Linked DNA regions of Homo sapiens. The protein of the gene in region 2 purifies or fractionates together with the protein of the main gene of each other region. This does not show direct contact. Each region holds a gene or a part of one and is shown on either strand. Other genes may lie near its edges.

Region 1 (4,541 bases), on a different chromosome or scaffold from region 2:
ATTATATGTGTACGGCAACAGCAAGTCATTTAGGAGGCAAATATGTGTTTTTACATATTTTTAAAAATTATACCAGTAACAAAATGAAGGCCTTAATGTGTGTGTCCCAGCACACAGCTTGACAGGCAAAGAAGCAGCAGCAAGTGACCGTTCTAAGAAGCCTTGCAAAAGACCTCCTGGTTTTTTTCTCCCTGGCTCATAGGGCTAATATTTGGTAAGATGTGCTTTGCAGAGAAAGAAGGGGGTGGGGGAAGCTGTCTTTCTATACACATATTAATATACCTGGGAGCCAACGTGCCCCTGTATCAACACATTTTCCAAGCAGTGACTTCTCCCCTTCCTCTCTGATTCATTTTGTACCAAAACAATGGCAACACCTGTAGCCGTTAATTTCTGCGCTTTGATTTTTGTCCAGTTATAAAGGAGGCTCCCAGCAGGCTCCCCTCTCAGGAGCCATATGTGGAGTTGATGTGCCAGCCGCCTTGGAAGGGAAACGGCCTCCGGAGAAGTGCACAATGGCTCCATAATCCCCATCAACTGGACCCTCTTGAACTGCCTCTTTATTTTCCAGTCAAAGAAATGCCAATCTCAAGATAAAAGCTGTGGCTGCCCTGGGAGCCCAGGGGAAACCTGTATCGCTTGCCTGGTTCAGCCCCAGGGTGGTGACTCTGAGTCCCGCCATCTAGTCTCGCAATCTGGAGCCCAGAAACTGCCTGTAGCACCCCCAACACTTTCCCTTGCACTCCCCTCTAGGATGAGGCTTTTACCACAAGGCCACCTCCCGCCCAGCCTCTCCCGGCGGCTGGCGACCACAGCGCACCCTGAGCAGAGCCACGGCACCGCCCCCTCGCACCGGCTCACGCCAGGGGTTCGGTTCCAGCGCAAGCCTCTGTTGCAGGCTGGCATTTCTCCACGCTGAGCGGGCTAGCAACTCTTCAGACCACAGCACTTGCGTTGCCGGTGGGGGGCGGAGACAGGGGGCCACAAAGGCTGGGGTGTGGCAGGGAGCCCTTTAGGTTCAATGGCTTCTCTGCCGAGGGCACTGTGTTGCTAACTGTTGACCAAGAGGGTCAGACCCACACGCCTGCTGGGACTACACGGAAGGGGCACAGAGAAGTCTGGAGAAGCGAATGGGAAAGAGGGGCTGCGCGAGGAGACTCAGCCCCAAACAAGCGTCCCCGTTTGGACAGGGAAGGATGGCAATGGGATGCAGCCACTAGAGTTTTGAGTCTAACTCCAACCCTCCCCGCCCCCCTTTTTACACTCTCCCTTTGGGGACCTCAGGCCGTGCTCCAGGTCTCGGGGACCGTCCGAGAGGAGCCTTCGGACGGCCGCCCGCGGTGTGAACCTGAGACCTGGTAAATGTCACCCGGCTGTACCCCCGCCCCGCCGCTCGCCCCCAGCTCGTTCTGCCTCGGCGGCGGCGGCGGCTCCCCGGCAGCAGCGCTCTCCGCGGCGCCCCGGGGGCAGGACTTACGCAGTGGCTCTCGGCCGTCTTGAAGTCCCAGCTGACCCTCTTGGCGCGCGCCTGGATCTCACTCATTCTGAAGAGGCAGAGCGCCGTGGTGGTGGGGGAGCGCCGCTCCTGGCCCTCTCCAGCGGCCGCGCTGAACACTCCCGCCCAGACGTCCAGGGCCTCCACTAGGCTGGAGGAGAGGAGCAGGCGGCGGCCGTCGGGGTGGCCGTGGCCGCAGTCGAGGGATGCCTGGCCCTGGAACAGCACCTCGGTGCTCTGCGCGATGCGCGCCATGCTGGGCCAGCCGGTGGCAGCGCCGCTCGTGTAGTTGTAGGGGTAGTAGGGGAAGTAGATGCTGCCGTTCCAGAGAAAGGCGTCCACGAAGTGCAGGCTGCCCGCGCCCTCGCACAGCTTGAGGCGCCCCAGCTCCTGCGTGGCCAGGCTGCGCCCCTCCGTGTCCTTGAGCGCGATGGCCGTGTCGTGGTCGGATGCCGCGGGGTTGCAGCGGCTCGCCGTCTCCGGCTCAGGCAGCACGTAGGTGGCGGCCACCGCCAGGTACCAGCGGTTGTTCCGGCCCGCGCGGTACACCACGCCGGCCGTCGAGCCCTGCGGGTGGCACGACACCACCTCGGTGCCGTTGCGCAGGGAGTTGCGGCTCAGGTTGCCCAGGGGCCGCACCTCGCAGGCGCCCCGGTCGAAGGTCCAGCCGGTGAGCAGCAGCCCCCCGAGGCCGGCCGCCCCCTCGCGGTAGGGCAGCAGCAGCTTGCTGAAGCTGCTCCCGGGCCGGGGCCGCGCGGGGGGCGCCAGCGAGACCGGCTCTGTGCAGTTGCCCGCTTGGTCCCGGTACAGGCGCGAGAGGCTGTGCTCCAGGCTGTAGTCCAGCTGGTCCAGGCAGCTGCCGCTCGCCACAAACACGCCGTCCTCCTGGCTCGCCGCGATGGCTCCGATGGCTTGCTCCGACCGCCACACGGGCTCGTCCGCGCCCCGGCCGGGAGCCGCCAGTGCCAGCAGATAGGCGAGCAGGGGCAGTGGCGCTGCGGGGCGCGGGGGGCGCGGCGGCGCCTTCCTCCGGGAGACCTCCATGGGGCTGGGGGGGCCGCCCCCGGGCAGGGCGCGCGGCGGCGACGGCGGCTCAGGCGCGCGGCAACGGAGACGCGGGCGGCGGCGGCGGCGGTTCCTGCGCGCGCTCGGGCTCCCGCGGCCGCCCCATCCCCGCAGCTCGCCCAGGAAGGAGAGCGGGGAGGGCGGCGCGCGGCAGGCTCGCTCCGGCAGCCTGTGCAGCGGCGGTGGCGGCAGCAAGCCCTGCGCGCTCCGGCACCGTTTCCTCCTCGCCCTCCTTCGCCGGAGAGTTCCTGTGTGCAGCGCTGGCGCTCGCGGGGAGGCGCGGAGGGGAAGGGAGGGGACGGGCGGAGAGGAGCGAGGCGGGCGGGGAGGGCTGGAGAGGTTGGGTGCGCTTGTGCGTTTCACTTTCCCATTGTGAAAGTGGGATGCAACTGGCCCCCTTCCTCATCCTCTCTTCCTCCTCCGCCCTCCGCCTCCTGCCCGCCCGCCCGCCCTCCCTCCACGCCCATCTCCCCTCCCCTCTTGATTCGGTGAGATAGGGAGGAGGGAGGTCTCGTAATTTGGGTTACTGTGTAGGTGGCCTCTTTCATCTATTCATAACAAAGCTCAGCCGCCCGCCGCGGCCGCCGCGGCCGCCACCATCGCCCCCTTGGCTCGCCTGGGGCTCCCGGGGCGCGCTAACGGCGCACGGAGCGGGCTCCCGCGCCCGTCCGCCCGCGGTGCTGCTCCAACGCCCGGTTTTGTTTACGACAGCAGCCGGGTCGGGGATACGCCAGGCGCGCGGAGCGAGGATCCAGGGTGCGAAGGGGTTGCAGCTGAGGCCCCGGGCTCGGGCCACAGGGCTGCTGCGAGAGCGGCTGACAGGTGTGGAGCGGCGAGAGGGAGGCCCCGGGGAGGCGCGCGGGAGACATGGCCGAGCCGGAGACTCCGGGGACCAAGGCGCCCCTGTGACAGGGTGTGGGTTTCCCCGGGTCGGATGAGTGAGGTGGCAGAAAGGCAGGCGCCACACTCTCGTTCTGGACAATCCCCAGGGCCGGAGCGCCCATATTTGCAAAGGTTCTCTAATCTCCCTTGGCAACAGAGTCCCAGGCTCTCAAGCCTAGCACTTGGAAAGTTCTGCTCACCATCTAACCTAATGAGCGGGGCTAACATTTACTGAGCACTTACTACGTGCCGGGTGCGCTTGTGAACTCACCACATGGGTTAAGACTCATAATTCTCATAACAGCCCTATTAATTAGTGACTGTTATTGTCATCCCTACTTAGTAGTCCAGGAGAATGGTTATAGAAAGGTTGTGGAACGTGCTGGCATTCTACTGCTGGTAGATATCAGAGCCGAGATTCGAATCCATATCTAGCCCCAGGGCCTCTTACATACCTGGCTCTAGTTAAGTGCCACCTGTGGCCATTGCCATAATCCCCCAGAGATCATTCTCTGTAGTGAGACTGAAAAGTTCCTCAAGTTAAATGCACCAACCAGCCCCCGCCCTGCTTTCTACTATTAGACCCAAGTCCCCGTATTTCCCTCGAGGCTCTCCATCTGTCTCATCATTACCCACTTTTATCCTTTGGACCCCCTGAGGTCTCACCACCTCACCCAGAGGGTGAATAACAGCTGGGTTGCCCCCACAGCCGCCAAGAATTTCTGAAGCACAGGGAATCATTGCCCACTGGGGAATAGGTTCATGATTTCTCGGAATGGGGCTTCCCAGAGGATGCACAAATGCCTCCCAGCTTCCCGGGGCAGCTGCGGGCACCATCAGCACCCTTACAGTCTGGCAGATGAGCCAGGGGGTGCATAGGAGTGGAGGGTGCTGAGGACCTCTATGGATCGTTGGGAAATGATCTCTGTTCCTTCCCAGGCTATTTCCAGACCCCAGGCCCCAGGGAGGGCAATTGGCTGCTATCCCCTTTCTTCCTTCCCTCCAAGTTCCCCAGCTCGAGATGCTGTTTTGGGAAGGGAAAGGAATGAGGTGGCTTTTGTCCCATGCTGAGTCCTGCCGAAGGTTGCAGGTTTCAAAC
Region 2 (3,811 bases):
ATCTGTAGAAAACACGAACAAAATGGATTCTCTTTTTTAAACAAACATACACACATGTATATTTTGCATATGCATAAAACATATCTAAAATATTGATATGAACACTGTATGTGAAAACAAAAAGCTTTGATTGCCTGCATATAATATAAACACATTCATAACAAATTTATATTAAATATATATCATATATAAAACAAAAATTATTAGGCAATATAGAGGAGAAAGAAGGAATACATCCACATATAGAATATGATATAGAATATGGACATTAAAGGTGTAGATATAGCTAAGCTTTAGTGAAGGATAGTCAGTTTAATATTCCTTGTTTTAAAGAATTTAAGACTTTCTTAAATGAATAACGTTGTTAGTCATCAGGTCAACTGAATATCAGAATTCCAGTTGAATCATCCTTCATTTAATTAGTTTTACTTAAATCTGCCAATCTGGCCGGGCACAGTGGCTCACACTTGTAATCCCAGCACTCTGGGAGGCTGAGGTGGGCAGATTACTTGAGGTCAGCAGTTCAAGACCAGCCTGGCCAACATAGTGAAATCCCATCTCTACTAAAAATACAAAAATCAGCCAGGCGTGGTGGTATGCGCCTGTAGTCCCAGCTACTCGGGAGACTGAGGCAGGAGAATCACTTGAACCCAGGAAGTGGAGGTTGCGGTGAGCCAAAATCACGCCCCTACACTTCAGCCTGGGCAACAGAGCAAGGCTCCATCTCAAAAAAAAAAATAATCTGCCAATCCTATTCTTTCTATGTTTGCAAAATATGCCTAGAATCTTAGAAGAATGGGATGTTCTCGTAATAATTTTCCTAAAGCCATTTTAGTTTTGTTGAGGTCAGGCCCCCTGCTCACCAGTTGTTTTTTATATACTATTGTTATTTTGTTTCCCCAACATTCCCAGTTTCCTTTATTAATACTGTAATGCCAATTTTAGTTTGTTGCTGAAGTTTTTTTCTTAGGTAATAAAAGTGCTATTTTTTCCAAAATTCTAGTATCCTATCAGGACTCTAATTTTTAAATATATTAACCCCAACCTTTTGCCAGTAGTTCAAAGTGCATAATTTATATTTTCATTAGTACAAATGTTTCCGAAATATCCTTTACCAAAACCCATTTAACAAGATTAATGTGGGAGCATATTTTTATGAGCAGGGCAGTCAGAAATTTCTAGTCCAAACAAGATGTTTGTTTCTGATGCAGGAGACAATAAGTTTATTCCATGACAATACTTACACAAATTTCAATTATGCCAACAGTCCTTTTGAAAATAAAAAGGAAAACAATTTATTTTTAATTTCATTCCAGGACCCAAAGGAGTAATAAATGATTGGAGAAAGTTTAAATTAGAGAGTCAAGACAGTGATTCAATTCCACCTAGCAAGAAGGAGATTCTCAGGCAAATGTCTTCTCCTCAGAGTAGGAATGGCAAAGATTCAAAGGAACGAGTCAGCAGAAAGGTAAGATAATACAAAAAGCAGTAATAAATAATTTACAATGTGTTTTCTAATCTAAATCAATCTAGAGAATCACTTTAGACTATTACAAAATATATTCATTACAATATTGCTTACGCTGGCAAAAAAAAATGGAAATGAAGTGAACACCTATTGTGGCATTCTATACTAAGAACAGGTACAGTTATGAAAAGAATTCGTTACGAATACATGAGCTGACCTAGAGATAGTTTCACAATATGAGAAAGCAACATACAGAGAATTCCATCTGGGGAATTGTAACAAACCTGCTCCACTTGTTTTGAAAACATGTAAAGAAAAAATAAATGTAAAACTATTTTGAAACATGTAAAATACTACACAAATGTAACACATAATCACTATTAAAAATTTTATGCTAAGGTTAAACTTTGGAAATGTATCTGAATGCCTACATATCCATATGCCTGAATATGTGAATGAAACAAGTTTTCATATAAATGCTCAAATACATCTTCAAGTCAAATTTGTGTGGTTTGATCTGTTAAATTAACAGAACTATAGCAACAACTTAAAAATTATATGAAACATTGGAAATTTTTAGGATTAAAACTAAATTGGGACAATATTATTATTATTATTACTATTATCATTTTGAGACAGAGTCTCATTCTGTCACCCCAGCTGGAGTGCAGTGGCGCAATCTTGGCTCACTGCAACCCCTACCTCCTGGGTTCAAGCGATTCTCCTGCCACAGCCTCCCAAGTAGCTGGGACTACAGGCATGTGCCACCATTTTTTGTAGAGATGGAGTTTCACTATGTTGCCCAGTCTGTTCTCCTGGGCTCAAACAATCCACCTTCCTTGGCCTGCCAAAGTGCTGGGATTACAGGCATGAGCTCCCATACCCATCCCGGGACAGTAATCTTAAAACAGAAAAAAATATGATAAGGAAAAGAATGAGGACATTAGGGAAACAAATATAAGAAACAGAAGCAAAAGAAAGAAGTAATGAAAGCATCATAAACTTTTACTTAACTTAAATCTCAGTGTCTTCTGTAAAATGACACTAATAGTACCTACCTCAGAGGTTATCTGTAAGGATTAGATAACATAATCTACGTGAAGTACCCAACACCTGGTATGTTTTTCATAAACATTAGTTTCACGTGTTCTCAATTCTCCTCTACTTTAAAAATCCATGGTTCTGAGCTGCTCCACATCTATTAATCACACTATGCCCCATTGTTCCTTTATACCTTTTTTTCTTTTTTGGTTGGGGGAATAGGTGCTTAATATTCTGTTAAATACATTAATAATGGAGTAGCTATTATGGAAGGCCCTGCAGGTGACTTTTTATTCCAACTGCAATGAAAAGTAGCTATCTTAGAAAATGGAATTTGGGCCTTTTCTTACTTCAGCCCAAACTAGTGAATAATAATACCCTGGAGGGCTTGTTAAAATATGGATTACTTAGCCTCACTCTTATAGGTTCTAATTCAGTAAACCTAGGGTGGTGCCCAAATATTTGCATTTCCTAGAAGTTCCCAAGTGATGCTGATGCTGCTGGTCCAAAAATTAACCTCTTGGATGATCTGATGAACTCCAAATAGTAGGAAAAGCTGTCTTACTTGAATTTTTTGGATATTCAAAAAAATCAGTAAGTTATAAGATATAATAGTGTTTGTTGCTATAAAGAAAATAAACCAGCATAAAGATGGAGAGTGTGAGATGGGGACCTTTTTAGGTAAAGTAATCAAGGAAGGTGACATTTAAACAAAAGCTTCAATGAGGTGAAAGAGAAAGGCACATCAGGAGTGAAAGGTAGGTGGTCCAGGCAGAAAAAAAAGAGCAAAAGTACACTCCTTCGGTTGAGAATGGGCTTGGTATATCTAAGGAATAAAACTTCTGACTTAATAATTTCTATCATTTCTTTATTCTCAGATGAGCATTCAAGAATATGAACTAATCCATAAAGAGAAAGAGGATGAAAACTGCCTTCGTAAATACCGTAGACAGTGTATGCAGGATATGCACCAGAAGCTGAGTTTTGGGCCTAGATATGGGTTTGTGTATGAGCTGGAAACTGGAAAGCAATTCCTAGAAACAATTGAAAAGGAACTGAAGATCACCACAATTGTTGTTCACATTTATGAAGATGGTATTAAGGGTTGTGATGCTCTAAACAGTAGTTTAACATGCCTTGCAGCAGAATACCCTATAGTTAAGTTTTGTAAAATAAAAGCTTCGAATACAGGTGCTGGGGACCGCTTTTCCTTAGATGTACTTCCTACACTGCTCATCTATAAAGGTGGGGAACTCATAAGCAATTTTATTAGTGTTGCTGAACAGTTTGCTGAAGAATTTT

The links.
Region 1: the proteins of PDC (region 2) and PLXNC1 purify together in Homo sapiens (affinity purification with mass spectrometry; one large-scale study listed by BioGRID and IntAct). This does not show direct contact.

The regions. Positions count from the first base shown.
Region 1 is NC_000012.12:94,146,970-94,151,510, reverse strand, and holds the start of PLXNC1 (plexin-C1 precursor), read right to left. Parts: upstream 2,935-4,541; 5' UTR 2,540-2,934; coding exon 1,478-2,539; intron 1-1,477.
Region 2 is NC_000001.11:186,444,083-186,447,893, reverse strand, and holds part of PDC (phosducin), read left to right. Parts: intron 1-1,316; coding exon 1,317-1,468; intron 1,469-3,387; coding exon 3,388-3,811. UniProt on the Homo sapiens protein: May participate in the regulation of visual phototransduction or in the integration of photoreceptor metabolism. Inhibits the transcriptional activation activity of the cone-rod homeobox CRX.